Homo sapiens: one gene and its partners. The protein of the gene in region 1 purifies or fractionates together with the protein of each later gene. This does not show direct contact. Each region holds a gene or a part of one and is shown on either strand. Other genes may lie near its edges.

Evidence for each region.
Region 2: the proteins of PPP2R1B (region 1) and STRN purify together in Homo sapiens (affinity purification with mass spectrometry; 5 studies listed by BioGRID and IntAct, with this or other methods). This does not show direct contact.
Region 3: the proteins of PPP2R1B (region 1) and STRN3 purify together in Homo sapiens (co-immunoprecipitation; 5 studies listed by BioGRID and IntAct, with this or other methods). This does not show direct contact.

Annotation. Positions count from the first base shown.
Region 1 is NC_000011.10:111,761,792-111,773,027, reverse strand, and holds the start of PPP2R1B (serine/threonine-protein phosphatase 2A 65 kDa regulatory subunit A beta isoform), read left to right. Parts: upstream 1-6,638; 5' UTR 6,639-6,666; coding exon 6,667-6,780; intron 6,781-7,643; coding exon 7,644-7,734; intron 7,735-8,122; coding exon 8,123-8,223; intron 8,224-11,236. UniProt on the Homo sapiens protein: The PR65 subunit of protein phosphatase 2A serves as a scaffolding molecule to coordinate the assembly of the catalytic subunit and a variable regulatory B subunit.
Region 2 is NC_000002.12:36,844,536-36,855,002, forward strand, and holds part of STRN (striatin), read right to left. Parts: intron 6,573-10,467; coding exon 6,465-6,572; intron 5,266-6,464; coding exon 5,179-5,265; intron 5,091-5,178; coding exon 4,921-5,090; 3' UTR 1-4,920. UniProt on the Homo sapiens protein: Calmodulin-binding scaffolding protein which is the center of the striatin-interacting phosphatase and kinase (STRIPAK) complexes.
Region 3 is NC_000014.9:30,909,913-30,920,379, reverse strand, and holds part of STRN3 (striatin-3), read left to right. Parts: intron 1-1,273; coding exon 1,274-1,414; intron 1,415-6,722; coding exon 6,723-6,856; intron 6,857-8,197; coding exon 8,198-8,373; intron 8,374-8,555; coding exon 8,556-8,603; intron 8,604-9,217; coding exon 9,218-9,339; intron 9,340-10,467. UniProt on the Homo sapiens protein: Calmodulin-binding scaffolding protein which is the center of the striatin-interacting phosphatase and kinase (STRIPAK) complexes.

The DNA of each region.
Region 1 (11,236 bases):
TGACCTCGTGATCCGCCTGCCTCGGCCTCCCAGAGTGCTGAGATTACAGGCGTGAGCCACCGCACCCGGCCTAAATAACACAACTTCTAACATCTGCATGGTGCTTTCCACTAACAAAGCACCTTTCATCATGACTCTCACTCCTCACAAGTCTGAGAGGTAAAAGCTCTATTTTACCGATGAAAAAAATCTTCTGGAACAGGTATTCTGACTCTGTAAGTCATGTACCTCTTTCATTCTTTCATGTGGGTCCTTTCTGTTGCCAAAGTTCAATTGATTGCAATATTTTCCTATTTGCTCCCACTTCCTCAGTAGATAAAAACTGTTAATGGATAGTATTTGAGTGCTTTCTCTTGCCAGGCACTACCTATGCACTTTATATGAATTATTTAATCTTTTTAACAACCACATGAGGTAAGCTCAACAGCCCCACCGTATAAATGTAGAAACCAAGATTCAGAGAGGATAGGTTATTTGCCCAAAGTCACACAGCTAGTAATTGGTAGAGGTGGGATTTCAATCTACATCTTCCTGACTCCAGAGTATACTCTCCTAACCATTGTATGTACTATTGTGAAAGGTAACTGAGTGTCCTCTTTCTTTTTCTTTTTTCTTGCTATATTGCCCAGGCTGGAGTGCAGTGGTGCAATCATGGCTAACTGCAGCCTCTGCCTCCCAGGCTCAAGCGATTCTCCCACCTCACCCTCCCAAATAACTGGTACTACAGTCAGGCACCTCTGTGCCCGGCTAATTTTTGTATTTTTTGTAGAGATGAGGTTTTACCATGTTGCCTAGGCTGGTCTCAAACTCCTGAGCTCCAGAGATCTGCCCACCTGGACTTCCCAAAGTGCTGGGATTACAGGCATGAGCCACCTCACCACCTTGCCCGGCTGTCCTATTTCTTTGATTTGCTCTTCCCAAGAATTCAAGCAAAGTTTGCCTTGGAAATCCAATACCTTTGTTATATGTGGTGATGAGCTGTAGAACAGAGGTAGGAGATGGAGGAGGGAGTAGCAATAATCCCTGATTATGAGTTCTGCACCTGCTTCTGATTTATTGGGACATCAGGTAAAGTCCCTTTCTCTTTGTTGGGGTATTCCCACCCATAAAAATGAGATTAAAAATTTGCCATGAAGAAAACACAGAAGAAAAAGAAGGCTAAAATATTGAGCTGAAATTGAAGGGAAAATATTTGAGTTCCACAGAATGGTGACATACTTTGCATAAATACAAATTTAAAATATCATTAATGCTATGGTGATAATCACTACTTTGCGATGAATTAAGTACAGCCCTCGGAATCAGTTTACCAGGGTCATCTTGCCAAATGAAGACAGTTGGAAAATGCTTCCGTGTGCCTCAGGTTTCCCGCCCCTGTCATCCACCACTCCCTTGATGTCCCTTTCAGGGGGACAACAGTCTGAATCTGCCCTGAGACACTTACAGGTCTCCTACACTTGGCCTTCTCACACAGTGGGGTGACTGTGGAGCAGATCAGCATTTGAATGAGAACCTATTTGTAAAGCTCTTTGGCTGTAAGGGAGACGCAAGTTTAGTAAACTTGAGGCAAGGGGCCAGAGAAGATGACAGTGATGTCACTTCGATCCTCATGACTGATGCTTTTCTTTTTCCCAGTGGCGCTATCTCGGCTCACCACAACATCTGCCTCCTGGGTTCAAGCGATTCTCCTGCCTCAGCCTCCTGAGTATCTGGGATTACAGGCATGCACCACCACACCTGGCTAATTTTTGCATTTTTAGTAGAGACAGGGTTTCACTATGTTGGCCAGGCTGGCCTCAAACTCCTGACCTCAGGTGATCCACCCTCCTCGGCCTCCCACAGTGCTGGGATTACAGGCATGAGCCACCACGCCCGGCCAATGACTGATGGTTTTCTGATGTGACTTTGAGAGCTGTTAATGTGAGCAAGAGTTGATGGCCGTCGATCCCATCTGCCTGTACTTCCTATATTCTTGATGCTTTGTCTTATAGGAACCGGGCAAATCTAACTCAGTCTTCCTTTGATCCACACTGGATGAGTGAACTGCATGTGGGTGTCAGAACTCAGTGCTTTTGTACTGAGGCTGTCACCTTGTTACCTGAGGGCTGCCTTAAATCCTCAACCTAATCTCAGCTGTTGCCTCTGGCATTCCCTGGTTATTAGTTTCTTGTGGGGTGTGTGTGGGAAGTGGAGAGGAGACCTGAGGGAGGAATAGAGACAGGATATGGAAATACCTCAGTGCCACAGTACTGTATTGGTAGTGCTTGGCTAAATTCCAGAAGTCCAGCAAAAGAGGGACAATCCTTTTTATTTTATTTATTTATTTTTTAGAGACAGGGTCTGGCTCTATTCCCAGGCTGGAATGTAGTGATGTGATCATAGCTCACTGTAGCCTCGAACACCTGGGCTCAAGTGATCATCTCACCTCAGCCTCCTAAGCAGCTGGGCCTACAGGTGTGCCAGCGGACTCTGCTATTTTCTTTCTTTTTCTTTTTTTTTTCTGGTAGAGACAGGGTCTTGCTTTGTTGCTCAGGCTGTGGGACCATCTTTTGAATCTGGCAAAACCCACAGCCTATAGATTCAGAATTGCTTATTGATAAGTCATTTGATTTCTTCTGGACACGGGTGGCCTCCAAAGACTTTCAGACTCTACCTGAGCAGATGCTTGTTTATTGACATGGAAATTACTTTTCCAGATGAACTTTTAAAATCAATGGTTTTCAAGTATCAATGCACACTAGAATCACCCAGTGGACACTGTAAACCATCTGGCCCCATTCTTAAGGACTCTAATTCAGTAGGTCTGGGTTGGAGGCCAGAAATCTGCATTTTTAACAGGCATCTTAAGTGATTCAGACGGTCAGCCTCAGAATTTGGCTCAGGTTTTGAACTAGCCTTTTTTTCTGCTGCAGTCTGTTTTAATCACCTTCATTGAAGGATTTATTAGCATCTCCATGTTTATTACCTGTTTCATTCTCATAGCATCACAGCAACTCAAGCAGGAACAAGAGGTGGTTAGCTCCATTTTATGGGGTGTTAGGGGGTGGAAGGTGGGATTGAGGCACTGGGAGAGGTAGGTCATGATGAGTCAGAGACAGAGATGGGAACTGAAGTCCAAAATTGATGACTCTCAAACCAGGCAATTTTCTGGGGCCTATTTTCTCAGCTTGTGATTTTATATTTAATCATAGTTATTCCTTGAATCGCCAGTTCATTGTACTTGGGTAAGCAAAGCATATTTGTATTTTAAACAAAGTAGTTTAGCATCAAGGTGCCAGTTTTTGTTAGCATATTAAGGCTCTCTTAAGCTTGAGTTAATATCGAAAACAGTACTGTGGAACTGACTTAATCTGCTTCTCTCTGTGCATGCTTCCTTTATTATTTCTGAAGACTTTAATTTTTTTTTTTTTTGAGACAGGGTCTCACTCTGTCACCTAGGCTGGAGTGCAGTGGCAGTCACAGCTCACTGCAGCCTCAACCTCCCAGGCTCAAGTGATCCTCCCACCTCAGCCTCCTGAGTAGCTGAAACTAGGCGTGCACTACAGGCCCAGCTAATTTTTGTGTTTTATTTGTAGGAATGGGGATCTCACTATGTTGCTAGGACTGGTCTTGAACTCCTGGACTTAAGCAATCCTCCTATCTCGGCCTCCCAAAGTGCTGGGATTACAGGTGTGAGCCACTGCACCTGTCCAAGACTCTTTTTTTTTTTTTTTTTTTGAGACAGGGTCTTGCTTTCTCACCCAGGGTGGAGCGCAGTGGTGTGACCTCAGCTCACTGCAGCCTCAACCTCATGTGCTCAAGTGATCCTCCCACCTCAGCCTCCTGAGTAGCTGGGACTATAGGTGCACACCACCACGTCCTGCTAAGTTTTTTTTTTTTTTTTTTTAGAGATGGGGTTTTGCTATGCTGCCCATGGCTGGTCTTGAACCCGTGAGCTCAAGTGATCCATCATGTGCACCACTGCCCCAGGTGACTTTTTACATAAAGTATAAGAAAACAGATTCCTCCTCTCAATGCCTACAGGAATCCCCTCTGATCTTCTAACTGGTAAAGTACTAAGTTAAAAAAACCTCTTAGCCCTCTGTCTCTCCAAGTTGGGTAGTATTAAATATATGAATCCATTTTTAGCCTGGGCAGCATGGTGAGACTCTGTCTCCATACACACACACACACACACACACACACGCACACACACACACGAAGCTGGATGTGGTGGCACATGCCTATAGTCCTAGCTACTCAGGAGGCTGAGGCTGGAGGATTGCTTGAGTCCAGGAGTTTAAGGTTACAGTGAGCTATGATTGTGCCACTGCACTCCAGCCTGGGAAACGCAGCAAGACCCTGTTTGTTAAACACACACACACACACACACAACACAATAATTTTTTAAAATCCTGAAAACTCTCAGTTAAGTCATTATTATTATTATTTTAGAGATGGGGGTCTTGCTGTGTTGTCTAGGATGGTCATGAACCCCTAGGCTCAAGTGATCCTCCCACCTCAGCCTCCCAAGTAACTGGGAAGACAGGCACGCGTTACCATGTTTAGCTAAATTGTTTTTATTATGCTGTGGTTATTTAAATTTACGAATATAAAGTAGGAAAAATGTGCTTTTATTTCTAGTTCTTACACAGCTAAAAAAAAACCACAACAAATTTACAAATTAAATACAAATGAAACCACAAAATGAATACTATTCAATTAAAAATATTATAGTAATTTAACGTGACAAATGATGTATTTTGCTAAAACTGTCATCCGTCGTATTGTTACTATGGTGTTGCCTGCTATAGCTCAGCTTCTTTTGTGTTCAACATGCCTATGCCACCAAGTGACTCCTGATATCTTAATTTTCTCACCATTTTTCTGTTACAACTACCAAATAGTGCAATCTCATGATGCATTTGGCTTTCATTTTGTGCATGAAAGTATCATTGTCATTTTAAAACCACCTCTGTTCTTTTCTCATTATCCCAGAACAATAAAAGCAGCACTAAAACACACATGTAAATGTGGGTGCTGAAATTGTGTGGCAATACTTGGTTGTAAGGTGGTCACCCAAATAATTCAGAATATGCTTATACAAATCTAAAAAATATGAAAATGAAAATAAAATTAAAACCCTAGAGAATACATTCGCAGACATAATTTGAGAAAAACTGTTCAGGTCTGCTGGTTCCCAAACTTTCATTACTATCAAAGGCTCTAGCTATTGTGCTTACTTCCAAGAACCCCATTTATTTATTTATTTATTTATTTATTTATTTATTTATTTATTCATTATTTCATTCATTCATTCAAAGGCTCTATTGTGCTTACTTCCAAGAACGCTATTTATTTATTTATTTATTTTAGAGACGGGGTCTCACTCTGCCGCCCAGATTGGAGTACAGTGGTGCGATCCTGGCTCACTGCAACCTCTGCCTCCCGGGCTCAAGCGATTCTCATGTCAGCCTCCCGAGTAGCTGGGACTACAGGCTCCCGTCACCAGCCCAGCTAATTTTTGTATTTTTTAGTGGAGACAGGGTTTCACCAAGTTGGCCAGGCTGGTCTCGAACTCCTGGCCTCAAGTGATCCGCCCGCCTCGGCCTCAGAATCCCATGTTTTAAAAAAGTTTGTCTCCTACACTGCATTTATAGTTTTATTAATCAGGCACATAGAATTACCATTTCGGAGCTTGTGATCACCATATGTAGTTATCACTCCAAGCTGCTTAAATTCCAGTCTAAAACAAACAAAACATTCTAATTATTCTGTGCTACCCTGACAGGGGTAAGTGAAAACTTTCCATTCAGGTTTGTAAGAACGAGCTCCCAGACCTCCACCTCTTCCCCTTGCTGCCTCTGAGGACTCTTGGAGGTCTAGGGAGGCCAGTTTGGGTTTTCTTGCTCAAGAAAGTAGCCACCCCACCCAATTTGGAAGGATTAAAGCTTGTCCTAGTTTTGCTTCATTGTTGTACTTCTAGCATGCTAAAGAGCTAAAAAATGGGAGGAAGAAAATACAACAGAAGGCACCATTCCAGTACCAAACTGAAAAGAAACACAAAAACAAGAGAGCAGCATGTTTTTAACAGCTTGCGTGGAAAAAATATTGACTGGGGAGTTTGGACAGCACTGTTCATTTTCTCTCACCGCCCGCGTTATTTGTCTTACGGAGCAGGAGCCAGATACCATTCTGGAGAAAGAGCCGCGGGAAGAGGTGGAGGGGTTCTGTGGAAGTTTGAGTCTGAGCGGAGAAATTAGGGCTGGAGATCCAGTGGCTCAGGGCCAGGAAGAAGTCAGGGGAGGTGCTAAAGCCTTTTTCCTCCTGGCCTCGGGCACTCTCTTTGGTCCGCCTGAGTCTTAAGAGGGCACAGCGCAGATCATTCAGGTAGGTTCCTGGCTCCTTCAGACTACAACGAGCTGGATGAATCCCTGTCCCTGTTTCTTTCGGCTGGGGAAAGGACGCAGGGGTTCCATTCGCTTTCTTAGCCCACCCGTCTTCTTGAGTTCAGACCTACAACTCCTGCAGTGGGGGTCAGAAGGGAGCCTTAATCATCGGGACAGAAACGCGGCTCCCCAACTTCGGCTAAACCAGCGTGGCGGCCTTCGTCCCTACTGCCTGGGCGCGGGGCGGGGCCTGGGCGCGGGGCGGGAGGCGGTGACCAGCAGCAGGAGGAGAAAGAACATGGCGGGCGCATCAGAGCTCGGGACCGGCCCAGGAGCAGCGGGTGGAGATGGAGATGATTCGCTATACCCGATCGCGGTTTTAATCGACGAGCTCCGCAATGAAGACGTGCAGGTACTGGACTGAGGCCGGGGACCCGAGGCGAGACCGGCTGGTCGCGTGGTAGAGAAGGGGGAAGGCCTGCGTCGCGGTGGGGGTGGCCGAGGTACTGAATGAGTCGGACTCGTAGCAGAAACTTGAAGGGGAGGCGGGGAATGCTCCGCGAGGGGCTGTGGTGACACGCCCCGACCCTCCCGGGTACCTCTCTAGTAACCTTGCTTCGGACCCCCTGAGGCGTCCGCCCGGAGCCTTGCCCTTCCCGGGCGGTTGTCGGGGAACCCGCTTCCCGCCTGGGCGCCCCATCCGGGCCGTGAGGTGGCCGCGTCTCTTGGGCGAGGGAGCAGGAGAAGCGCGGTGCCAGGCCGAGACGGGGCTGGAGCGGCTGAGGGGCGCAGGATGCCCAGAAGCCCTTTGAAGTGCCCCTGGATCCCTTCATCTCGGCTTGGAACTGGCTCGGCTTGTTGGGTAGAAAGCGGGGGTGGGATGGCCGATTAATCTGGACGAGTAGTGTATCCGCTCTGTGGGAACTTTTCTTTGAAACCACAGGTGTTGTATTCAACCGTTTCACCTGCTTCACCACTGCCAAAGTGCTCTCTTTTTAAAATTATCTTACTTCCTAGGTGTTGTATTGTCTTTCCTTCATTTCTCTTCCGGTCCCTTCTGAGTGTTTCTCCTGGGAAATCCTCCGCCGGCTAGTGAGGCCGAGTTACACTTCTTTTTGGAAGTCCTTATGAGCTTCCTTAACAGTAAAATCTAAATGAAAGGTTATCTTCATTCTTACCCCTGTGTCATAATTTCACCTGTTAGCACCTTTTGTCTTTTGATCTAAATTCAGCCGTTTCTTTACATTGTTCTTCTTTCTACTTTCTTTTCTGAAGCTCCGACTCAACAGTATTAAGAAGTTATCAACAATTGCCCTAGCACTTGGAGTAGAAAGGACCCGAAGTGAATTGTTGCCATTTCTTACAGGTATGTGAATCTTTGTTTAAAGAAAGGTAGGGACATTCCATTTTCCAGTAGCTTTCAACACTGACTTTTTTAGAGTTTATTACCCACATTAAAATGAGCCAGGTGTTTTTTGTGCAAAAGAAACAGAACAGAGTATATTGTTAGTTGTGGCTAGATATATTCAAACATCAACCATTTAGCTATTGAAAGTAATTGATACGGGAGTATGAATTTCTAATTCGTTGTGCAAAGCAGATACAGGAAGACGGTTGAGAAGAAAGAAAATGCTGTTAGGATTTTGACTGGGTCACCTTCCTGGTCGCATAGTGAATCTGTTCCTAGTTTTGTGTCAGTGTCCAGCTGTGGGAGAGCTATCCATGTTGATGAGTCCTGTTGTTGTCACTTCCAGATACAATTTATGATGAAGATGAGGTACTATTAGCTCTTGCTGAGCAGCTGGGAAATTTCACTGGCCTAGTGGGAGGTCCTGACTTTGCCCACTGTCTGCTGGTGAGTATTTATAAGCTGCCTACCCTCCTTCTACAACTTTTGCAGTATAAATGATACATTGTTTGGTGATAGACACACTGCAGCATTTTTTATGCAGATCTTTTTATGGGCAGATAGTCATAATGTTAGTCATTGAGAGAATAAGTACTGTAGGCACTTTGCACTCAACTCCTTTTTTTTTTTTCTGTAAATAAGAGAACTTCGTCCTCCTTTTCTGCGTCTGTAGACTTATTAGTTTAGATGTAGGGAGAAAAAGGGTTTGATTGTTTTTATGGTTCCCCCGCGCGATGGTGGAAGTTTTAATTCTCACCTAGCAGCATTTTGTCTTTGTCAGTTTAACTTTTGCTTCTGACTTTGTGAGTTTGATGAATTTAGTTCAATTTAATTGACATTTATTGAGAGTCTACTTTATCAGACACATCATAGTTTACAATGTTAATGTTGAAGAAGACCAATGTGAGGGGGCTTGGTGGCACAAGCCTGTAGTACCAGCTACTCAGGAGGCTGAGACTGGAGGATCACTTGAGCCCAGGAGTTTGAATCCAGCCTGGGCAACATAGTGAGACCCCCATCTCTTAAAAAAAAAAAAAGACCACCAAAATGAATCTAATGAGGTCACTGCCTTTATGTGTCAGCAAATAATTACCGTGCAGTCGTAAATGGAAAGATATAAGTACCCACAAAATACCCACGTAATAGAAGGGAGAAAGGGATTCACTCCGGGTGATCAGGGAAGACCTTGGGAGATGATGTCTGAACTAGGTTTTAAAGGATGACCAGGAATTCAACAGTTGGACAAGGTAGGGGTGTATGTGTCAGAGCTTTGAATACTGGGTATGTAATACTGATTCTTGTGATTTCTGTCTCTAGTTCTGACTTTTCCATGGAACTCCTGAGGTAGATTGATTAATAGATAAGTATGAATATATATATATAGAGAGAGAGAGAGAGAGAGAGTTTTTTTTCTGTCTATGTATATAGGCCTATGCTTTTTTCTACTTGTATGTCAAACAGGTATTTCAAACTTAACATACCCAAAACAAAACTTAGCTTTATCCCCCAAATACACCTCTCATTTAGTTGTTCCACTTCAGTAAATGGTATCACTATCTTCCCACTTGCACAAGCCAAAACCTAGAATGTATTCTTGAATCCTCTGTGCCTTGTTCCACACATCTAATCCATTAGTAATTCCTATAGAGTCTACGTATATTTCAAATAAGTCCACTTTCTTCCATCCCTCCTATTACCAGCCTAGTCCAGACTGTCATCTTTCCTCTAGATTGCTGTAGTAGCTTCCTAGCAATGCTTTCCACTCTTGCCTCTCACCCGACTCTTACAGTTCACATCACCCAGCAGATGGCTCACTCTCTGCTATAGCTCTTAGAAAATCCAAATTCTGTACCTTAGCTTACAAGGCTTTTTATGACCCGCCTCTGTAGGATTATCATATGCCCAGTGGTACTGCATGAGAAGAGGTGACAGTAGGCAGGGAACAGACTGCAAAAGGCCTTGATAACCTCTTCCATTCACATTGGTCATCTTTCTGTTTTTTGAACTAACCAAGCTCATTATTCCCTTAGGACCTTTGCCCTAGGTCTTCCCTCTAATGAAAAGCTCTTTCAAGCTTTCTGTGGCTGGCTCCTTGTCATTCAGGGATCAACTTCAATGCATCTCCTCAGGGAGGTTTTCCCCAACCACTCAACTTAAAATAGCCTCACAGTCATCCCTTACTACATCATCCTACTCCTTTTTTCTATAGAGTACTCATCACCATCTACTTATTTTCTTGATTGATTGTTGTCTTACTCCATTAGAATGTAAATGCCACTAGAGTGAGGAACCTTGTCTGCCTTGTTTCTTCTGTGTCCTCAATGCTAGAATATACCAATAATAATGTATTGAAAAAATGAGTTTCAGAGGCTTGGAAGCATGAAACAGGCTGGGTTCAAAACTGCCGGAGTGTGGCTGGGTGTGGTGGCTCACACCTGTAATCCTTGCCTTGGGAGGCCAAAGCAGCAGGAGGATTGCTTGAGGCCAGGAGTTCAAGATCAGCCTGGGCAACATAGTGAGACCCCAACACTTAAAAAAAAATAGCTGGGCATGATGTCATGTGTCTGAGTCCTAGCTATTCGGGACGCTGAGGCAGAAGGACGAGGAGTCTGAGGCCGCACTGAGCCATGATTGTGCCACTGCACTTCAGCCTGGGCAACAGAGCAAGACCCTGTCTCTTAAAAAAAAAAAAAAAAAAGAACTGCTGGAGTGTGAAGTGTTGAGGCTGGGTAGGCAGAGTGGTCATCAAGGGCCAGGCAGAGTTCAAATCAAGAGACCACTCATAAGCAATTCTCAGGAGCATGGCCTCATCCTGTAGTAATGATAGCTATTATCCAGTGGTACTGCACGAGAGGGGGTTACAGTAGGCAGGGGACAGATCATGAAATGCATTGGCAAGTGAGAAACAGTATCTTTTCAATGAGTTTCTGAAATACCTTCTAGGAAAGCTGAATACTGTCTACCTGTGTGTATCAAACAATTTTTAAAATATATTATTAGACACACTTCTTTTCTTTAACTCATTATGCTTCTGTTTCACTCTTGGTTAGTTCTATATGTGGGTTTTATGCTTTAAAATCTGTAGCTCATGGCATGTGTAGAATCTACCTGGACTACATGCAAACTCAGTAAGGCAGAGGTTCAGAGAGCCAGCCTGTTTACACTTTTTACTAGGCCATGCCATATTCAGTTACTGCTCTTAATCCAGACCATCCACCCCATTTGGCTTCTTTTATTTCTAAAGCTGTAAGCAAGGTGTCCTACCATCTCTGTACTTTACCTTTTTTTTTTGAGACAAGAGCCTCACTCTGTCACCCAGGCTCAAGTACAGTGGCACAATCTCGGCTCACTGCAACCTCTGCCTCCCGGGTTCAAGTGATTCTCATGCCTCAGCCTCCTGAGTAAGCTGGGTTTACAGGCGTGTGCCACCATGTCTGGCTAATTTTTGTATTTTTTGTAG
Region 2 (10,467 bases), on another chromosome or scaffold:
GCATGTGGTCCTGGTTAAATTAAATCTAAAGCTTGGATTAGCAAAGATCCAGAAAATTCTGACCCCCTAAGCACCACTTTAGGAATACCGCCAGAATCAATGAGTGGGATCTAGGGATCTGTTTGGCCTAACATTTGTTTTTTTTAGAATTAAAAAAACAAAACAAAAACTGAAAGGATCTGTTAAATACTTTGTCAACCTGGCATCCCTGACACTGACATGAAGATCCAGTTGGATGATGGATATTGCCAATTAAAAAGTTTGTAGTGGCAAAAGTAAAAATGATTCAAATTGACGAATGACCTGTCCTTTGTTTTTAAACACAGATACGTTTTTCTGGGCCTTTCTCTAAAATGAACTTTAGGGCTTGATACATTTCACAAAAATATACATATTTTTCGTCAGCTACTACTTTGTATACAACCTGAATCCCAGTGTCCAACACTTAAAAGTACTGCAATTATATAAATTACTAAACAAGTTAACAGTAATGGAGAGGCAACTTCTGAGTAAATAAAATGAATGATTATGTACTTAATAGCCTTGTAGTCACTTTCAAAGAATAAAGTAATCTAAATAAAATTATACTTAGCACTCTTTTTCATGTAAGTTCAATAATTATTTGGCTATTGGTTGAAAACATCACACAGACAGACACCAACCAAAGATTCATTATCTCCACTCGCTAAAAACATTGATGGTTAATTTTAAGCAATTCTTTCAAAGAAAAACAAAATTAATTCTAAGCCTTTCAGTCTGATTTGTGACATCTTAATACAATATAACTTAAATGACAAAGCCTGAGAAAAGCACCAACATAGATTTTTTTTTAATTGCATCCAACCATCATTTCAGATGTCATAAAGATTTGCTTCAGTTAAAATGGCAGCAATGACAAAGAGGTAGATATGAGAGATGCTTTTTAAATATTTTAAGACTATTCTTAGGTGGAATTTTAACTAGTTCAGGTATTTAACCTAAAAATATTTACTAGTTGAATCTTTACCACATAAGAACTTCATGACATGCTGTTTTGTAAGAGGGAAATATATGAAGTATTAAAAAGTGAGCCTTTAAAAAATTACATTTACTTAGCCAACATTAATGAGATCCCATAATTTTGGTGAACAAATAATTTCTCCTTCTACCTGAACTTTACTATAATTAAAGAATAGCTATTGTTTTCTCTACTGAAATTTCTAGGAATTCACATTCAAAATTCTTGGAAAGTATATATGGTGCTCAGAAGAGCACAAAGCGCATGAAATGTCCCCTGAAGTCCTAGAAGTTGAGCAGATACATTAAAAAGACATTGATGGTCACAAATCAGGACCTTCACAGATTGGTAAACACACACACACACACACACACGCATGCATGCACACACACACACACACACACACACACACACACACACTAACTCTCTCTCTCTCTCTGTGCCCCCCCTCCCACCCCCTCCCCAAACTCAATCTTCATCCTCACTGTAAGGCTGCATTTTTTTTTTTAAAGGCACCTCTCATTTTCTAGCTATTGCCTTCTTGATGATATTTGTTTTTGTTAAAAAGTCTGAATGTTCAATGGAAATAGTTCAGTACTGAGAATAAAATATTTTTCAATTCACATTTGAATAGCCAGGTTTTCTTACATTCAGATTTTAATACACTAGAATGACAGTCTTTAAAACAAGCATGCTAGCCTATAATGAATATTGTATATACAGTAATTTAAACACTTAGAACTATATATTATACTGCAAAAGCAAACAGCACAACACTCATCATACTCATCATTATCTGCTGTGTATACTACCTCCAAAAATGAAAATACAAAACAGTAAAATGCACCTATGGTTTATATATATATATATATATATATATATATATATATATATATAGTTTATATATTATATATATTCTTACAATATATATAATATATATTTATAAAATATACATACATTTTAGACATTTTCAAATAAATCTTCATCATTATCTCCAAAAGAAATTTATAGCAAGAATACTGAAGGAATGAAAGTCAGATTAAAAAAAAAATTTCTCACAAAGTTCATCATCAGTGATGCAGCTCAATTTCCCCCGTTTTAGTCATAACTAAAATGATTATAAAAGCGAAATATTTTGCATAACTAAGTATTTGTTTAATGGCAAAAGTTGTTAAACTTGTTCAATAGAAAAATACTGAAGGTCATTATATCACTTTTGTTAAATAATCTGTCTATGGTTTGAGTAGCAAATGAGCTCCATATGACAGTTGAGTTTTGAGAAGGGTGCTGCAAGCTCCCAGAGATGTATCCACAGCATATGAAAATAAGGCAGGGATCCAAACCTCCCGCTAATTTTCATACTATTCCAATACATTTCAAACAAAATATTTACAAATGAAGCACTATGAAAGCATTTCAATGGCTGTTTAAACATTGAATTTGTTCATTCTGTGAATTTTCATTGAATGTTCAACAGGCTAGGGGAAAAGTCAGACACATGTATATGCTACTCTGGTTGGAAGACAGCTTTGGCTCATTTCTAGGCTGAGATCATGCAGTGCTGGTAGAGAAGACTCTCTCCGTAGTCTCCAATGCCACAGCACTGGCTTTCTAAGGAACTTTCAACAGTTCCATTTGCGCTACAGTCTATGTATCTCATGGTTATTTTCCACTCACTGACAGAAAAATTTCAACCATGAAGCATAAAATGAACGGGGGAAGAATGTCCTGGTTTTTAGAATTTCAGTGACATTAATAAAGCAGTAACTGAAGATCTTAGAAGGTAATTAATAACTGGTAGAACAATAGCTTTGTGGTCATCCATCATAAATACACCAAGTAATGGCATCTTCCTTCCTTCCTTCCTGGAAGGAATTTTCCAGTATCCTTCTACAAATGTTAGGTTAGAAACATTCTTTCTTCACTGTGAAGAACCAAAAGAAATTTACTGAACACAATATGGAATTCTGTATCTGCATGGAAATATTAAGTATTCACCTGACAGCTCATGTTTAGGTCAATTCATTTAATTACACAAAGCAGTCTCTTGAGCCTGCTTGTTAACCAAAGCACAAAGATGAAATGAAAAGGTAGCTGTATTACTACAGCATATCTGTATGAAAATCAGGCAAATTTAGCACAAGTCTCTAGCTTTAAAGAAAATTTGCCTGTATAATGCAGAATTCTAGAGGCAAACAGGCAGAAATTTTACAGAAATATTTGTCAATCATTAGCCACACCACCACCAGAATACTTTTTCAAGGAGTAGATGTACGTATCATGAGAAGCATCATTGTTATGACGATGGAAAATGTGGGGAATGGAATATGTAGAAATTGTTTTAATTGGTTAAAATATCTATAGATTTAATATTTTTAAAATCTAAGAGCCTATTTATATGTTTTTTGGTGGAAAGTTGGACGTTAATAATTTATTTCCAATTTCTAGATTGGTCTCTGTCATTTGGGACAAAGAGTAAGAGAGACATAAACCACTATAGAAATAATGTCTTTATGACAGGAGACTAGGTCTAGATAGCAGGGTCTTCAGAATCCCAAAAGGTGAACACATGTAGGTGGGTCACAGGTAAGTTGGGCTGGGGAAGCCTGGCCTTTTAAGGTGTGGATTTCCCCAGAAACAATACTGATCCACTGCCCATTAAAACATGTATATCTCAATTAAACAATGGGGGAGGAATAGGGAGAGAGAAAGACAGAACTTTTTAGCCAATATTTGGCATTAAACTCTTTCATCCAGGTTTCCAGGAGATTCTTACAGGGATTAATAGAGGACTTCTAGGGTACAAAATATTTGTTTTTATTAGTGCTTCTGCAAAAGCAGCTGCGTGAAGTTAACCATACTCTTTGGGCTATTAATAATTATGAACTGTTCTTGGTAGATGTCAGATAACTTGAACGTGACAAAGAAGAAAGAGCACAGATCATCTGAAGCATGATTAGGTGGGTGTTGATAAATGATTATTAGCAAATAAATTCTATCTTTTCAGTCACTGAAAAGTAAGATTTCATTGGTATGAAATAATCACTCTGGTACTATAAATGTCACATGAATAAAGTGAATTTTAAAATAGAAATTATTAAAGAGATATGCCCTGTTTACCCTTAAAAATAAACAGAATTTCAAACCTGAATAAGTTAAATCTGTTAGTAAAAGCAGAGTCGATCAACTATTCTTCACAATGGTGAGTGCTTGATAGCTAAACTTTAGAATGATACCAAATCTGTTTTCAAAACTGTAATACAATATAGAAATCTGCTTGCAAACTATTTGTCTAGCATTTCTGAATAATAATATATTTAACATATTATTGCATTTTTCTCCCCCTAACAGGTAAAATGCTTTGCCAGGTGCTTTATGTGAACAGCTGAAAGGAGAGTCAAATTAAAAACTCAGTTTAACACTGCCTGGTCATTATACACAAAGGGGTTAATATGGCAGATATGATAAAGATTACTATTTTGACTACTTAATGTGTTTTAACAAGATTTCTCAGGGGAGAACTTGGTCTAAGTTTCCCGTTTTCTTCTATTCAGTCCCAGCTATCAAGCTTTTAAATTATCCATTGTAGCATGCCCTACTTACTCAACAGGGACAAGCTAAACTTGTATTCGCTCAGGCCTGCCTAGCGAATTAGAACCACCTCAGAAATAAAGGCGCCTATTGGGGAGAAATTTGAAACAGACCTCAGGCTCACAGATTCAGCTGAGCTTGCAGCAACCTGAACAAACCTTAGTTTTAGAAAACAGTATATGAATTGCAAAACTATACTTCAACAAATGTTCTCTGTGCTCCTTCAGCAGAACAAAAGGGCAGGACGAGATGATTCTTGCCCTCGTCTTCTGTATCTCTTGTGTGCAGTTGATTACTTATAAACAGCTAGAAGGTGAAGATGATGCATTGCGTCATACAAAGACTTTAGCCAGTGCGTCAGCTCCAGCACTGGCTATATAGCATTTGGATGGGTGGAAAGCTACATCATGAATCGATTCTTCAAACTTTTTTCGATGAGCTGTGAATTCTTGGATACACGTCTTACTTTCTAGATTCCATAAACGTATTGAACAGTCATGACCTATATCCAAAAAAAAAATTAAAAGGAAAAATTACATTAACATGAAAATGGTAAGGACAAATAAATAATCCATAGTTGAGGTACTTACTGCCAGACATCAAGTAAAGGCCATTGGGATCAACTGCTAAACTTGTAACAGCTTCTAGGTGGGCTACCATCGAGTGGATCAGTTTGCCTTTGGAAAAAGAGATTGTTACTCCTTATTAATGCCTTTCCTCATCTTCAATATTTGCCAGCTACCATGTCCTGCTGGTTTCTCCAGTCATCCCTCTCTGTGTGCTTACTGTATTAATAGCTTTTTCCATCACCTAAAACAACATGTCTCCCTCTTGCCTCTAGTCATGGCAATGATATGGAAAACCAAAAAAAGCTCAAATTTTAGATTACACTTTTGTCTTTTAAGCCACGATATGGAAGTCAGTAATTTCTACACGCAACCCTTAAGCCACGTTTGTTAATTAGAACTTAGACATTATTAATCACCTACTTTGCATTCTTTAGCTACTGGCAAATTATGAGTTGTGGAAACACAGAATTCAAATTCACAGAGAGAAAACAATGAGGCAAGGAAAAAGGGACAGAAAGAAAACATGGCCACAATTTTGGTGGATACAACATACAGAAAAAAATTTTAAATATTAAATGATTCATCACCAGCAGCTAAACAAAGTCAGCAGAAGTCAACATATTAACAAGGCAGATACTTAGGTAAATATGGCAGCTAATATAGGGTGCTTTCCTCCCAGCACAGTGCTTCCTAAATTTCCTTTATACTGGTGAAATGTAATAAAATAAAACTTGGGCAAATCTCCATGCACAATTCAAATCAATGAGGACCAACCAGTCAGTTTTATAATACAGAAAAGATTAGTCTATGGAAAAACGAATACAATGACCTGGAGGTTTTCCATCCGCAACACTAAAAAAGGCTATTTGGTAATGGAATAATTGAATATTGAATAATGCTATTCAATAACTGAACAACTTTAAACAAAATATAATGACCATATGCCTCTATTTCCAATGTTTCTACTTTTCCCCAATATATAATACTACAATAGATCATAGCAACAGATCATTTTTATTTGTATTTGAGTGAACTTTTCCTGGTGTCCCTAGTGATAACCTTGGCTCTAAAGCCTACATATAGCATCTGCTCACTATTAAATAAACCAAAATGATTCTGTATTGTATAATAAAGACTAGTCTTAGCAGATTTGGATAGAGTGAAGAGAAACTGAGACGGGAGAGTATTTGGGGTTCAGTGCCTATTCCCTGACTACGAAACCACCAAGAGACACCAAAATTAGCCTACTTGTGGTAGGGATTTTTTTTTTTTGCTTTAATAAAAATCAATTCTTAATAAATTCTTACCTGTATTGTTATCATAGAATTTGATGTGCCTGTCTTCATGAGCAGTGATGCTGATCGGAAGAGTAGGATGACTGATGACTCTATTTATTTGGCAGGAAGAGTTGGCTGCTAAAAAGAAAAAATTAAAAAGCAACACAACTTAGTCAAAGATATTTTTCACACAAAGGAGAACTGAATTATCTATCTAAGAGACTGAAAAAGTAGGCCGGCCGCGGTGGCTCACGCCTGTAATCCAAGCACGTTGGGAGGCCAAGGTGGGTGGATCACGAGGTCAGGAGATCGAGACCATCCTGGCCAACATGGTGAAACCCTGTCTCTATTAAAAATACAAAAATTAGCCGAGTGTGGTGGTGCGTGCCTGTAGTTCCAGCTACTCAGGAGGCTGAGGCAGGAAAATCACTTGAACCCGGGAGATGGAAGTTGCAGTGAGCCGAGATCGTGCCACTGCATTCCAGCCTAGGTGTCAGAGCGAGACTCCATTTCAAAAAAAGAAAAGAAAAAAGAAAAAGAAAAAGTAATAATGTGACTTTCATTATTTGTCTTTAGTTCATTTATTCTGTGACTGTTTTCAAAATTTCAATGTTAGGAAAGAGAATTGCCTGATAAATCTGGAAATATTTATAAATTACAATTTCCTGCTATATGTGGGTGCCATCTATGGCTTAGTCTAGAGCCACTAACGCTGTTCATTCTACAATGTTCTGTGAGATTTTGCTACTTTAAGTAAGTTCTATCATCACTTACATGGAGATAATTCTCAAATTTAAATCTCAGCTCTTTTTGCATACAAAGTTCTGTATCACATCATTATCATCTAAAGATATATATGACAAAGAGGGCTTCTTAATCCTTAAATCCCTTTATCACTCTTCCTCATCATAATAGAAATGGTCATTTGACAGAACTAGGTTTGGAATCCTAAAAGTCAGCATCCTAACTGTATTTTTTGTGTTAGTAAGTTCCAAAGAAACTTCAATTATACACACAATGAGACAGGCAAGCACATATCATTAAGCCTATATTACAGTGAACACATCAAGGTTCAGAAAAAGTTGTGACTCCTCCACAATCAGGTGACAAAATCAGTACCTATTCTAACTTCTGACTCTCTCCCAACCTGATGGTTCATGCAGATCACACAACTGTCAAAATTGGTTCCTAAATGATCACACATTCTTCCTGAAAGGCTTTTATTAAAAAGAAATCAGTAATTTAAAACCTCAGTGATTTCTGTTAAGCTTTTTTTAAGAGAAAAGAAAAACTGACATAAAGAAAACACTAATTGAAGGTATGTCAAAGTTTTAAAAATTAAATTATGGTCCAGGGAGAGGAAGGGGTGTCCTTGTAAAATATATTACTGGAACAACTCTCAAAATTTGAATATAAATAGTAATTCAGATAATAGTATTGTGTCAATGTTAAGTTTCCGGATTTTGATCATTGTAATACACTACATCAGAGAATGCCCTTGATCTTAGAATTACACGCTAAAGGATCTAGGGGAATAGGAGCATGACGTCTCTCATATGGTTCAGAATTAAAAATTATACACATATATAGAGTGAAAAAGCAAATGTGACAAAATGTTAAAAACTGCTAAATATGTGTGAAGGGTAGCCAGAAGTTCTCGTACTATTTTTGTACCTTTTCTGCAAGTTTAAAATTATTTCAAAATAGAGTTTAAAAAATTTTTTGAACCCTAGAATAGGTATTACAAGTTTATATTCACATAATAGAAAATACAGCTAAAAATAGTCTAATCTTACAGGATTTTCATGTGGCTCCTAGAAATATAACATCTTAAAAACTGAAGACAGTCTTTTCCCAATGCTAGTGGCAGGTAATTACCCAGCCTGTTATTTAAATATAAAATGTGGCTGGGCACGGTAGCTCACACCTGTAATCGCAGCACTTTAGGAGGCCGAGGCAGGCGGATCACTTGAGGTCAGGAGTTCGAGACCAGCCTGGCCAACATGGTGAAACTCTGTCTCTACGCAAAATACAAAAATGAACCAGATATGGTGGCACACGCCTGTGGTCCCAGCTACTTGGGAGGCTGAGGCAGGAGAATCGCTTGAGCCCAGGAGGTGGAGGTTGCAGTAAGCTGAGATCGCACCACTGCACTCCAGCCTGGGCAACAGAGCGAGACTCTGTCTCAAAAAAAAATAAATATAAAACAAAAACTCACTTGACCATGTGGAGTAAGTTCTTAGTCAGTTACACCTGGTTTAGATCCTAAACAAAGAGATGTTTATTTATAAAATTCAGACTACGCATTATTTCCTCCACAGATAATACTCCATTGAGCAACACCCGTGGTAAAGTCCAGCAAGAGAATAACAGTAACAACAAAAAAAGAAATACTTTAAGTGAAATATCCCATATATTCTGAGAGAGACGTTTCAGAGAATAGCCTCAATTGCTTTGAGAGCTAGAAAATAAATATGATTGAAATCAAATCATGGAAACAGGCAAAAGAAAGTTCTTATTTGGTAACACTTTTAAGGAAGCTTCTCCACTTGATGATAAATCAGAGAAGTCGGCAGAATGCAAAGAACACTACTCATACCTAGCTTGTGACGTATCTGCTTCAACTACCTTTGACTTTACCACAGTCAAATCGCCATTGACATCAATGAGAAGAAGGGTAATTTATTCCTATTCTAACAAACATCCTTCATCACTTTAAACTCTATATAAAACTCACTTTCTCCTTGAAGCTTGTTTGGTCCTTTCATTTTTTTAAAAAAATATGCTAAATTCCAAAACAGAACAACACAATCAATTATAAATAACAAGGGGTAGTTCACAGTAAAACATAATAAGAGACTAATTTAAGTTTTCTTTATACAACTTTAAAAGTAAAAAACATAATTTAGAAAATGTCAGGACATATTACAACTCAAAATAATGATCATTTATTCCAGTAATGTTGCCTTTGTTAAAAACATTCTTGGAAGTTTTCTCAAAATGTTTCCAGTGTCAAGTAAAAAGTCCTATTAATTTAGAGTCACATCTCTTGGGGGAAAATGTGGATTCACTCGCCTAGTTCTCTTTATCCATCTTATCTACCAGACTTGACATCTTATTAACCTGCAGTCATTAAAAAGCACTATTTCCACTCAGGATGTTCACAAATTGGCCATATAATCTCTGAAGGTAATTACAAAAATGTTCTCATCCTTTCTAATTTCATATTAGTTTTTTATTTTGCTACTGTAGCTTTGAGTCATATATTTAAACATGATTTTAAATTTATTGAGAGTCTAAAACCTGTAATTTCTTGCTGAAAAAAATTCTCCTTTTCCAATTCTATCACCTGAGTTTAATTTATTTTCCTGTCTCTCTCGTTTACATCCAAGTAGCTCAAAGTTCTATTCATGCTTACTTCCCCAAACAAGTCTCAGCATATCAGAAGAAAACAATGAACAACAGGTTAGGAAGGGAAAATGATGAAAACCACAAAGGAATAAAGAAACTTTTTGAGAGAGAGAGAGACAGAGAGTGAGAACACCACAAGAACATATGTAAACATATGCATGTACATGTTCACACATGCATGTGCACACACACAACATATCATCACTTTTAAAGCTAGTTCTCAGATTAAAACAAGAGTATATGTATGTCGTATTCTTCATCAACTGCAACCTAAACTGTGATTGTCTAGATTATGGCTAACGACAGAAAGCAATGGTTAAGAAAGCCAAAAACCAAAAAAGAGTCTGTAATATCTTCTTCATAACCTGAAAAAGCACTTATTTCCTGACTTCCTGCATCCAATAAGAAGCTTCAGGTTTGGAATTCTGAGTGCCACAACATGATCTGTATTGAGCTGTACCAAATCATACTATTAATATAAAATTAAGTTGATTTAAAATATGAAATTACGAGAAATGAAAAATAGAATTTCCTATTCAGAATAAATATGGCTTTCTTCAAATAGAATTGAAAATTAATCATTTAGTATAAAATAAAACTTGACCCATAACAGCTCAAATGC
Region 3 (10,467 bases), on another chromosome or scaffold:
ATTTGTTTACAGTCATTTCTCTGTGGGGGGGAAATCCTCAGGTAACACTGAGTTTCTTCATTATTATTAGTTAGGAAATTCAGACTACGTAACATATTACCTAATCCAGAAGTAAAATTGTTTAAGCATTTCTAAGAAATTAGAAATTACTGTAAAATAGGACCAATAAATGTATAAAAGTCCACCTATTTCCACTAAGTTTTACCATCTTAACTGCCAGGCATTTTGTTAAGGATACATAGATGCGTAATAGTTCTTAGAGTTACTTACACTCAAATAGCCACAGTGAACTTAATATATAGCAGTCGGATTCTTCCATTAATGTTGATGTTAGTAAATATAACGTCATAATGTTTGACCTTGGACTTACCTATTTTATTTTTTTAAACTTATGTAGATTATAAAGCATTGTCTTTTCAAAGTTTTTTTCTGACATTCTTAAAACTTATTTTCTTTCAAAATATATGGTTCAAAATAAATAATTCTGCTATTTCTAAAGTTCAGAGTTAAAGAATATTCCACAATGGTACAGAAGCTTTTGAGTTTTATATATTTTGGCCTGAATTATCCAGGCAACAGCCAAAATTCTTCCCTTATATTTATGGCTTATGACAGTGCTGACTTTTCATATCATTATGAGAAACTCAGAGATCTATCTCATGGATAAATCAGGTTTTTCAAATTTGGGAAAAATGAAAAAATTTTTGAAAGAAATTGGGGTTGATTTGTTAATGACAAATTTGTACTAACATGGCAGGAAAATATCCATGGAAACACCAGGTAAAGTTAATTGTTTGTTGCACCCTCATAAAAATTACTCGTACTTATTCCTTTGTTAAGTTTTTAAAACAGTGAATTATGTTGAAAAGCCCTTGTTTTATTCTTTACACTGGTAAATGTTAACCTTAAACACCAAAATTTTCCTTTGTTTTAATGATACCTTCTGTGTCTGTGAGCTTACAGAACTTTAAAGAACTCTCTAAAGTATTCTGTGGAGATATATATATATATATATATCTCTTTAGAGAGAGACATATATGTAATATAGATATGTATCTTTATATATATCTCTCTCTCCACAGAAATAGTAAATATTTAAACTCAATGTGTTTTGGGGGATGGTATGGAAAATGGAAGACATCTTTAATTTTCTGATATTTTAATAACTGGGACTTCTTAATAGTCTGTTTTGTTAATAAATTGGTTTTAAAGGCTGCCGGAAAGTCAAGCGGTAGCCATTAAATGAACCTCTACTGCTGACATTAATTTACAGGGGCCAACAGGACAAAACTCTACGACATGATAGCTGATCTGGGAGATGATGAGCTGCCCCACATCCCTTCAGGAATCATTAATCAGTCTAGGTCAGCCTCTACTAGAATGACTGATCATGAAGGTGCAAGAGCAGAGGAAGGTACAAAATTTAGCTACCATGTTTATTTACATTTCAGAAGACCTTAAATCCAAATCACATCTTAATGCAACTAGGCTACTGTTATAAAATGCTGATGATCATTTTATATGATCTTTAGAGAAGGTGTTGGGCAAGCTCTTGATGTAACTAATTTAGGGATTTTGACATTTCTGGTTTCTATTTCTTTATATTTTGTTTTTGTTTTTAATGTGAGGAGTTGTTGTTTCCATCATAGGTGAATTCAGAGTCTTTTCTTAAATCTAATTTTAGCTACAGATCCAGTAATGGGAAAATAGTAATTTATAAAAACAAACTTAAAATAATACATATGGAAAAAACTACTCATTTTGTCTTATTGCTTAAATTTAGGAACTAATAGTAATTACCACTTACTAGAAGACAACTATGGTGCCAGGCATTGTGCTTGGAACCTTTTTTTTTTTCTTTTTTTTTCCTTGAGACAGAGTCTCACTCTGTCTCCCAGGCTGGAGTGCAGTGGCATGATCTCGGCTCACTGCAACCTCCGCCTCCTGGGGTCAAGCGAGTCTCCTGCCTCAGCCTCCCAAGTAGCTGGGACTATAGGCGCACACCACCATTCCCCGGCCAATTTTTTGTATTTTTAGTAGAGACAGAATATTACCATGTTGGCCAGGCTGGTCTCGAACTCCTGACCTCAAGTGATCTGCCTACCTTGGCTCCCAAGGCGCTGGGATTACAGGTGTGAGCCACAGTGCCCAATCTGTTACATTAAATATATATTACTTCAAAAAATATATGTAACTGTTACCTAAATTAATCATTTGAGAATAAGGCAGCATCATTATTCTTTAACTTGGTAGCAAGTATACGCTACCTAGTAATGAATTTTATAAAATTTGCCTAAACCAGAAATGTGTAGGAAATGAAAGTACTACTTAAACATTTTTTCCAAAATTGATTTTAGCCGAAGATATATGGGTATACTTGAATCATGTATAACTCTAAGTCTAGATATTTATAAGTATTAAATCTGAATTTTTAACCAAAGATTATTGTGACATATGAGATACAGTAATTTGGCATATGTATTAAGTTTAATTGATGTTATTGCCTTTGCTCTGTAAAGGGGATTTGTTTGATGTCCCAGTCAAAAAATTTTAAATACATCTTGTTCCCTTTTAAGATTTCCCTAGTGGCACAGTTTCCTTACAGTTAAATAATTTTGCATTTTTTCCCTCTCATAATTTACCATTTACTTCACTCACCTTAAAAAAAATCACTAAAGTAACAAAATCATTCAAAACAAAATGAATGAAAAATAAAATAGTGTCTGTTAATTTTTTCAGATCTCATTTCCACTATTGAGATATATTCCTGTTTTACTTTAGAAGTATTTTCTAAAATACACATAGCAACTCCTTTTTTTTTTTTTAATTTTATGCATTTAGTGGTGATTTTGCTTCGTTTTTGGTCTGTTTTGCCAAATATGCATAGTACAACTTGCTAAAATTTTTGTAATTAATGTACATTTAAAGTGCAGGTTTTGCAATTTAAGGCAAAGCCACGTTAGCAATGTGGACCCTTTTAAATGTTTCAAACCAATGACTTAACGGAAAAAGCCAGTCAAGGCACACTCTACACAAAAACCAACTTAGAACTCTCTATGTGTGTTTGTTTATGTGTTATGTGTGTGTTTTAAAGAAAGAATATAGGTCAGTGATCTGTTTCTTGATGCTGGTAGGAGGGCGAGGGGAGAGATTTGATAAGTGTGAACTTCATTACAGTTTTTGAAGTATCGATCTTCCTGGAATTTGTTATTTAAAGAGGTGTGAGTTTGACTTCAAGCTAAGAAGGCAGCTTTGGAGTATACAGTCTCCTTATTTTCAGTGGCAGTCCCCAACTTCCTTCTTTACTTTTGAAGTCCATGTCCTACCTCATTTTATAAAGAACAAATGTCTGTTTTCTAGGAGTGGAACTTCAACATTACAATCTTCTAGACTATTGCTGCTAAAGACTTGAGACCTACCATGTTGCCACTGGTATAAATGGAATCTGTTACCTGGACTAAGTTCTTGGGAAAAAGAGTTCAATATGCGAGCTACAGGTTTCCTTCATCATAAGTGTCCATCAAAAGGAAGATTAGTTACAAAAGTCTGAAAAAGACCTTGTATTTTATAGACCCGTTATACTAGTATTGTTATCTTACTTGATGAAATCTCTTAGGCCTCCTAAATTTCCATCATTAAATTAAAAACTAGGGCAGGCATAGTAGCTCATGCCTGTAATTCCAGCACTTTGGGAGCCCAAGGCAGGAGGATCACTTGAGCCCAGGAATTCAAGACCAGCCTGGGCAACATAGCAAACTCTGTCTCTATTAGAAAAAAAAAGAAGATATTAAAACTACTTTTTTTAGGCCGGGCGCGGTGGCTCACACCTGTAATCCCAGCACTTTGGGAGGCCGAGACTGGTGGATCACGAGGTCAGGAGATCGAGACCATCCTGGCTAACACGGTGAAACCCTGTCTCTACTAAAAATACAAAAAAATTAGCTGGGCGTGGTGGCGGGCGCCTGTAGTCCCAGCTATTCAGGAGGTTGAGGCAGGAGAATGGCGTGAACCTGGGAGGCAGAGCTTGCAGTGAGCCGAGATCGCGCCACTGCACTCCAGCCAGGGCGACAGAGCAAGACTTCAAAAAAAAAAAAAACCAAAAAAACTACTTGTTTAAATAATTACATTTTTCTTTGAATTACTAATGACATTTTTATATTATGGGTAATTATATTACCATTAATAAAATGAATAGGATAGAAATTAATTCCCTCTGCAGGGAAATAAGGGCAAACAGATGAGTAGCTGCTGTGATTACCATATGCCACAGTGATGGGTAATATGGAAAGCAGAGGTAGTAGTGTAAAAGAATTTTTGCACATATATGTGTAAATAGTGATTAAGCAGAATAGCTTGCAATAGGTACATAAATATGTCATAAAATATATGTGTGTATATAGAGAAAAAGGACAGAAATGTGGTCATATGATTAATTAGAAATGAGTATAATACTAATTTTTTGTTAAGTACAATTAAGCCAAAACTCGAGTAAAACTAATGTCCAGACACTTCCCTTCACATGCTCCTAAATTGGTCTGGCTGATCAGAGATAGTCTTGCAAAATCATTTGTTACGTTAAAGTTATTTTATTGGGCTTTTGAGATTTGTGTCAGTGAATGTTTGTATAATTGTGAGTGGGAGGAACTGTGGCATTTTGTTCTGACTTCTCTTAGAAACAAATTCCCTGAGCTTAAAGTAAAAATATTTCTTTGTCTAGAGAAAAATGCTTTGAGTAAATATTATATAATGACTTTTATATAATTATCCTTAAACATAAGTTTAAATTATTGATTTTATAGTTTTTAGCTGCTTCTGGTATTGCCAATAACTGCATACTAATAATTGGTAGGAAAAGATCAAAAGATCAATGCTACAGATTATTCAGATTCAATAAGTGTCATCATTGAAAGATTAAATACTACTTAATATCTCTATATATTTTCTGTCAGGTGCTTTCAGATTCATTTTAGATCAAGTAACTGAATCAGAGCTGCATTTTAGAGCCCTATTTGAGTCAGATTATATAGCTTATTTTGATAGGATAAAATAATAAAATAACAAGATATTCTAAGTACAGTTGAATTTTATTTTGCCATAGTATATATATGAATTGTGTCTTCTCAGAATTATTTCCAGTAGTTTAGTGATGACTGTCAAGTTTCATTACACCTGTTGTGTTTCCTGTAGCATATTTATATCATTTTTCATGGGAATTTTTTTAAAATTGATAATCAGCTTGATTTTTTGTATAATGTGTCCCTTTTAAATTTGCTCATGAATTTTAAGTGTGTTTTGATATATTGAGTTTTATATTATGATTTGAGTATTTCTCCCTTGTTATCTTAATGTTAAAATTTTGCTTTCAAAGCATATTTGAAATGATATTGAAGGTTGTTGCTTAAACTATGACTGTTACAACAAAATATTTAGATAATAGTCATTCAATTATGGCAGAGTTTAATTGGTCAGTAGTATGTATAGAAAGGAAAACGCATTTTAAATAATTGGAACTGTTAATATTAACATGAAAAGCTGTAATAATGCACATGATATAGTTGAGAAAACTAAGTGAAGCTCAACCTGAGTTTAGTTTGAAATTGAAATGGCAAATCTGATCAGAAATTAAAGCTCTGTGGTCAAGATTACTTGCTTCATTTTAGAGTGTCATGGTAACTAGAATGGGACATTAAAATAAAAGTCATAGTCAAAGCTTTAAAGCTGGAAGACAGGCTGGGCGCGGTGGCTCACGCCTGTAATCCCAGCACTTTGGGAGGCCGAGGCAGGTGGATCACTTGAGGTCAGGAGTCAAGACCAGCCTGGCCAACATGGTGAAAGCCCATCTCTACTAAAAACAGAAAAATTAGCCGGGCGTGGTGGCGGGCGCCTGTAATCCCAGCTACTTGGGAGACCGAGACAGGAGAATTGCTTGAACCTAGGAGGTGGAGGTTGCAGTGAACCGAGATCGCACCACTGCACTCCAGCCTGGGCGACAGAGCAAGACTGTGTCTCTAAATAAATAAATAAATAAAGCTGGAAGACATTCTGAAGACCACGTGGATTAACCTTTTATAGAAAGGAAACTGACATTGTTGGTGGAAGAATTTTTTCCTAGACCATTGCTGTTACTAAAGGAATCTGAACAATTAAAGCTTCATTCTAGTGAACTGATATAGTATATAGCTGACTGTAAACCATTTACATTTCAATGTTTGTACTAGTTTTTATCAGGGACTAGGATGCCTAGTACTTCTTTAGAAAGCAAAAGGACTTGGTGACAACCTATTAACATTTAAAAAATACTATATGACTACTTTGAGGTCCTTGAGGTCCATGGTAGAGGTTTCCCCTCATGAATGCAAAAATCTGATATTTAACTCCATTATTTAATCAAAATTTGTCCTATTTCTTATTTAACATGTAAACTATAGTTATAATTGTACTGAAGTGATAAGAGATTTAGACAGACAAAGCTTTTGTGCCCTAGCTTCCACCCCAGAATAATATATCTAGTGCACATTTTATTTGTGGACAGTTAATACACCACAGTTCCAACACATTTGTTTAACACTGCTTAGTAACAGGATTTTTTGAGTAGAAGTGGGAAAATAAAAATTAATTATATTACTGAATATTGTAACTGTTAAGTGCTTAAATTTTCCCCACAATATTGTCTTGTACTGTATGATTTTTCAGCATTTAAGAAGCGGTTTTGTTCTTTATAGCTGAACCAATAACGTTTCCATCTGGAGGAGGCAAGTCATTTATTATGGGTTCTGATGATGTTTTGTTAAGTGTACTGGGCCTTGGAGACCTTGCAGACTTGACGGTAACAAATGATGCAGACTATAGTTATGATGTAAGTGCAGTTTTATTTTTAATTTTTTAATGATTTAATAGAAGGCTCCTTATTTTTTGGAATCACTTATAAAACAGAATTAATATCAAGGTGCATGGAAAAGATAAGTTTGTGTCAATGTGTTGATTTGAAGTGACATGTTTTTCTTTTATAACTACTCTCTTTGTGGTATTTAAATTTTTTTTTTAGGTATTTTGGTGGATTAACTAGAAGTTTGAGATGATTAATATATTGGTCAGTAAATACATCTTGAGTAGTCAACTCTCAATTATCTCAAATTAAGCCATATTTTGGTGTTAACAAGAAAAAAAATAACCTGAATCATATATTTGCCTTCAGAGTACTTCTTAAAAAGCATGTTTTATTTTTGAACTTTTATTTTCTTAAGGAAATATTTTAAAGTTTCTGAACATTTTAAAGTTAGCTTGCATCATTTCCTGAATACTTAACTCCTTCATTAGAGGATTGGGGAGTGGATGGAAGGGTTGGGGAGTGGGGAGTCCAGTGTTAGAGGTGAAACTTGTCTTGGATTTAATTTTTTCTAGTCATTAATATTTCAATTGAGAGTTAACTATACTTGTTAGATCTTTATGTTAATTGCAGTTTTTCAGCAATTTTTTTTTCTTTTTATAATGAGTTTCTTTTTTCCACGTTTTATACTTAACATTAGCATGCTTAGAGACAGCCTTTGGTGGGCTGGATTATTCTCATTAATATATTTTTTTAAGTATATAAGTGACTAAATTCCAGTAAACTTTTGACTGCTTTAGAAGTGGTTTCACAGCCTATCTTTACAGATGGAGAAATGTGAAGGTAAAAAGATAAACCTCTGTCAATATCAAGAATTATGAAAATGGGATAAAAATATTCTTAAAGGGTCTTTAGTTCAGACTTTCAGAAAGTACCTTAACTTGCTGCCTTTAATAATTTCACATGCTAATACGTTTTCTAAATGACAACTTTACTGTTAATACTGTACCGTTGGATATTTGTAATAACTTATGTAATTATTTTTCATGTAAAGTATTGCAGCAATGGTAGTTATTTTGTTCTCATCTGACATTTAATGGGAGCTTTGGGTTTAGCTTAATAGGTAAAAACAGATTAAGGAACTCTTCATTTGACCTAGGCTATTTGTAAGGCGAATGAAATTATTCTGAGTTATTATTAAATGATAAAGTTTTTTTAGAAAGTTTTAAAGGTACATTAAATTTCCACTGGACATTTTAGCCAACAGTTTTAAATATATGTGTTAAACACACCAAAAAGAAACGAACAAACACTCCACATGCCTTCCAGTTTACTACTTTTACCACTAAATATTGTGCTCTTTCCTTTTAGTTGCCTGCTAATAAAGATGCCTTTCGAAAGACATGGAATCCCAAGTATACACTACGTAGCCATTTTGATGGAGTACGGGCATTAGCTTTTCATCCTGTAGAACCTGTGCTGGTTACTGCTTCTGAGGACCATACCCTGAAACTTTGGAACCTGCAAAAAACAGTTCCTGCCAAAAAGCAAGTATTTTAGTGTTAGCCTGGTGTATTTCTTCCAATTTTGCTAATATAAGTAATTATTCCTCATTATTGTTGCATGTCTTTAATGCACACATTTGATCTAATGACTATTTAATATCAACCAGTGATTCATAGTTATTTAATTGCCTTCTCTTCCCCTACCCTTTTTCCCCCTCTTTTAGGAGTGCCTCTTTAGATGTAGAGCCTATCTACACATTTAGGGCCCACATGTAAGTTTTACTGAATTGGTATTTAATTAACATCATCATTATTGTTAAATATTATTTATCGGTCCTCAAACCTTGTAATTTTCTCAATGTTTTGTATTAGAAAAGATGTATTACTTGAATAATAGCTATTTAATAATTGTATTGGTGAGACTATGAATATAATAGTACCATTCAGGCCAGATGCAGTAGTTCATGCCTGTAATCTGAGGATTTTCGGAGGCTGAGGCGGGCAGATCACTTGAGGTCAGGAGTTCGAGACCAGCCTGGCCAACATGGTGAAACTCCGTCTCTACCACAAAATACAAAAATTAGCTGGGCATGTTGGCGTGCGCTTGTAGTCTCAGCAACTCAGTAGGCTGAGGCAGGAGAATCGCTCGAACCTGGGAGGTGGAGGTTTTACTGAGCAGAGATCACCACTGCATTCCAGTCTGGGCTGGTGACAGAGTGAGACCCTGTCTCCAAAAAAAAAAAAAAAAAAAAAGTACCAGTCAGGTGTACATGTTCTCTTAAAACAGTTTTTAGATATTACATAAATTCAGAGGTTGGGGGAATGGAGATTTGAGTTTCTTCTTAGAATTTATCAGTAATTTGTTTTTCCTCTCTTCCTACAATAGCGGCCCTGTTCTGTCATTAGCTATTAGTTCTAATGGAGAACAGTGTTTTAGTGGTGGTATTGATGCAACCATCCAGTGGTGGAATATGCCGAGTCCCAGTGTAGATCCATATGATACATATGGTAAGTAAAATGATCAAAATGTATTTTTTTTAAGTGAATGGAGCTGACAAAAGTAAATACCTCAAATATGATTACAAGGTTATTTAAACCTATATTAGTCACCTCATTTAGTTCTTCCATTTGCTAATAAATTGCTTTATTAAAGAGAAAAATTAGGAAATGTCATGCCATGGGTATTTAAGCCTATGAATTGATACTTTCTCTGTTGTTTAAAAAACTATATTAATTAAAATGTTAATTTAGGTAGTAGTTACAAAAAGAAGGAGGAAACAAAATGTAATCTAAGTAACAAAATTTTGAACTTAAGAAATAGTTTATATATTTTAAAAATATTAAGCAAAAGACAATGGAACCAACATCAGGGGTATAAATCATTAAAACTTTTTGGAGCCAAAAATTTTTTTTGTTATTCTTAGCTCATATCTACAAAAACATTCTTAATTTCAAAATGGAAGAAAAAAAAAAAGAAAGGAAACCTCCTTTGACTTGCAAATGTAGCTTTTAGAAATCTGTTCTACAGAAACACCTACCTGTACCTGTGTTCAAATATATTTGTAAGGGCACTGTTAATAATTATAAAACGTTAAAACAAAATGTTTATGAACTCTTTGTTCTTTTTATTTAACACACACATTGTGCCTACATTAGCTAGGCATTGTGGTAAGCACTATGTCAAGAAATAAGATTTAGACTAATGGAAAGTAGAGACATAAAACAGATAAGCGAAGGGATGGGATCTATGGTTACAAATTGTGATAAATGATAAGAAGATAGAGTACTGTTGAGAGGGCGTAACAGGCAGAACCTTCTCTAGAAGAGTTAGTCAAGAAAGGTCTTTCTAAAATAGTGACATTCAAGCCAAAATCTGAAGGATAAGAGGAAACTTTCAGTAAAGAGTTTTAAGCCAGAAAGTTATCTGATAAATGTAAGGTTTTAAAAAGGTGACTGTGTCTGTTGTGAGAAGAATAAATTGGGGGCGAGAAGAGTGGAAAGAGAAATACCAGTTAGGAGGCTGCTGTCATAAAGTAGTCCAGTAAACTAGGTGACAAACGACATTGCCAAGATTAGAGTGGTGGTAGCACAGCATTTAGAAGTGGTTTTAAGATACGCTGAGGGAGTGTGGTAGAA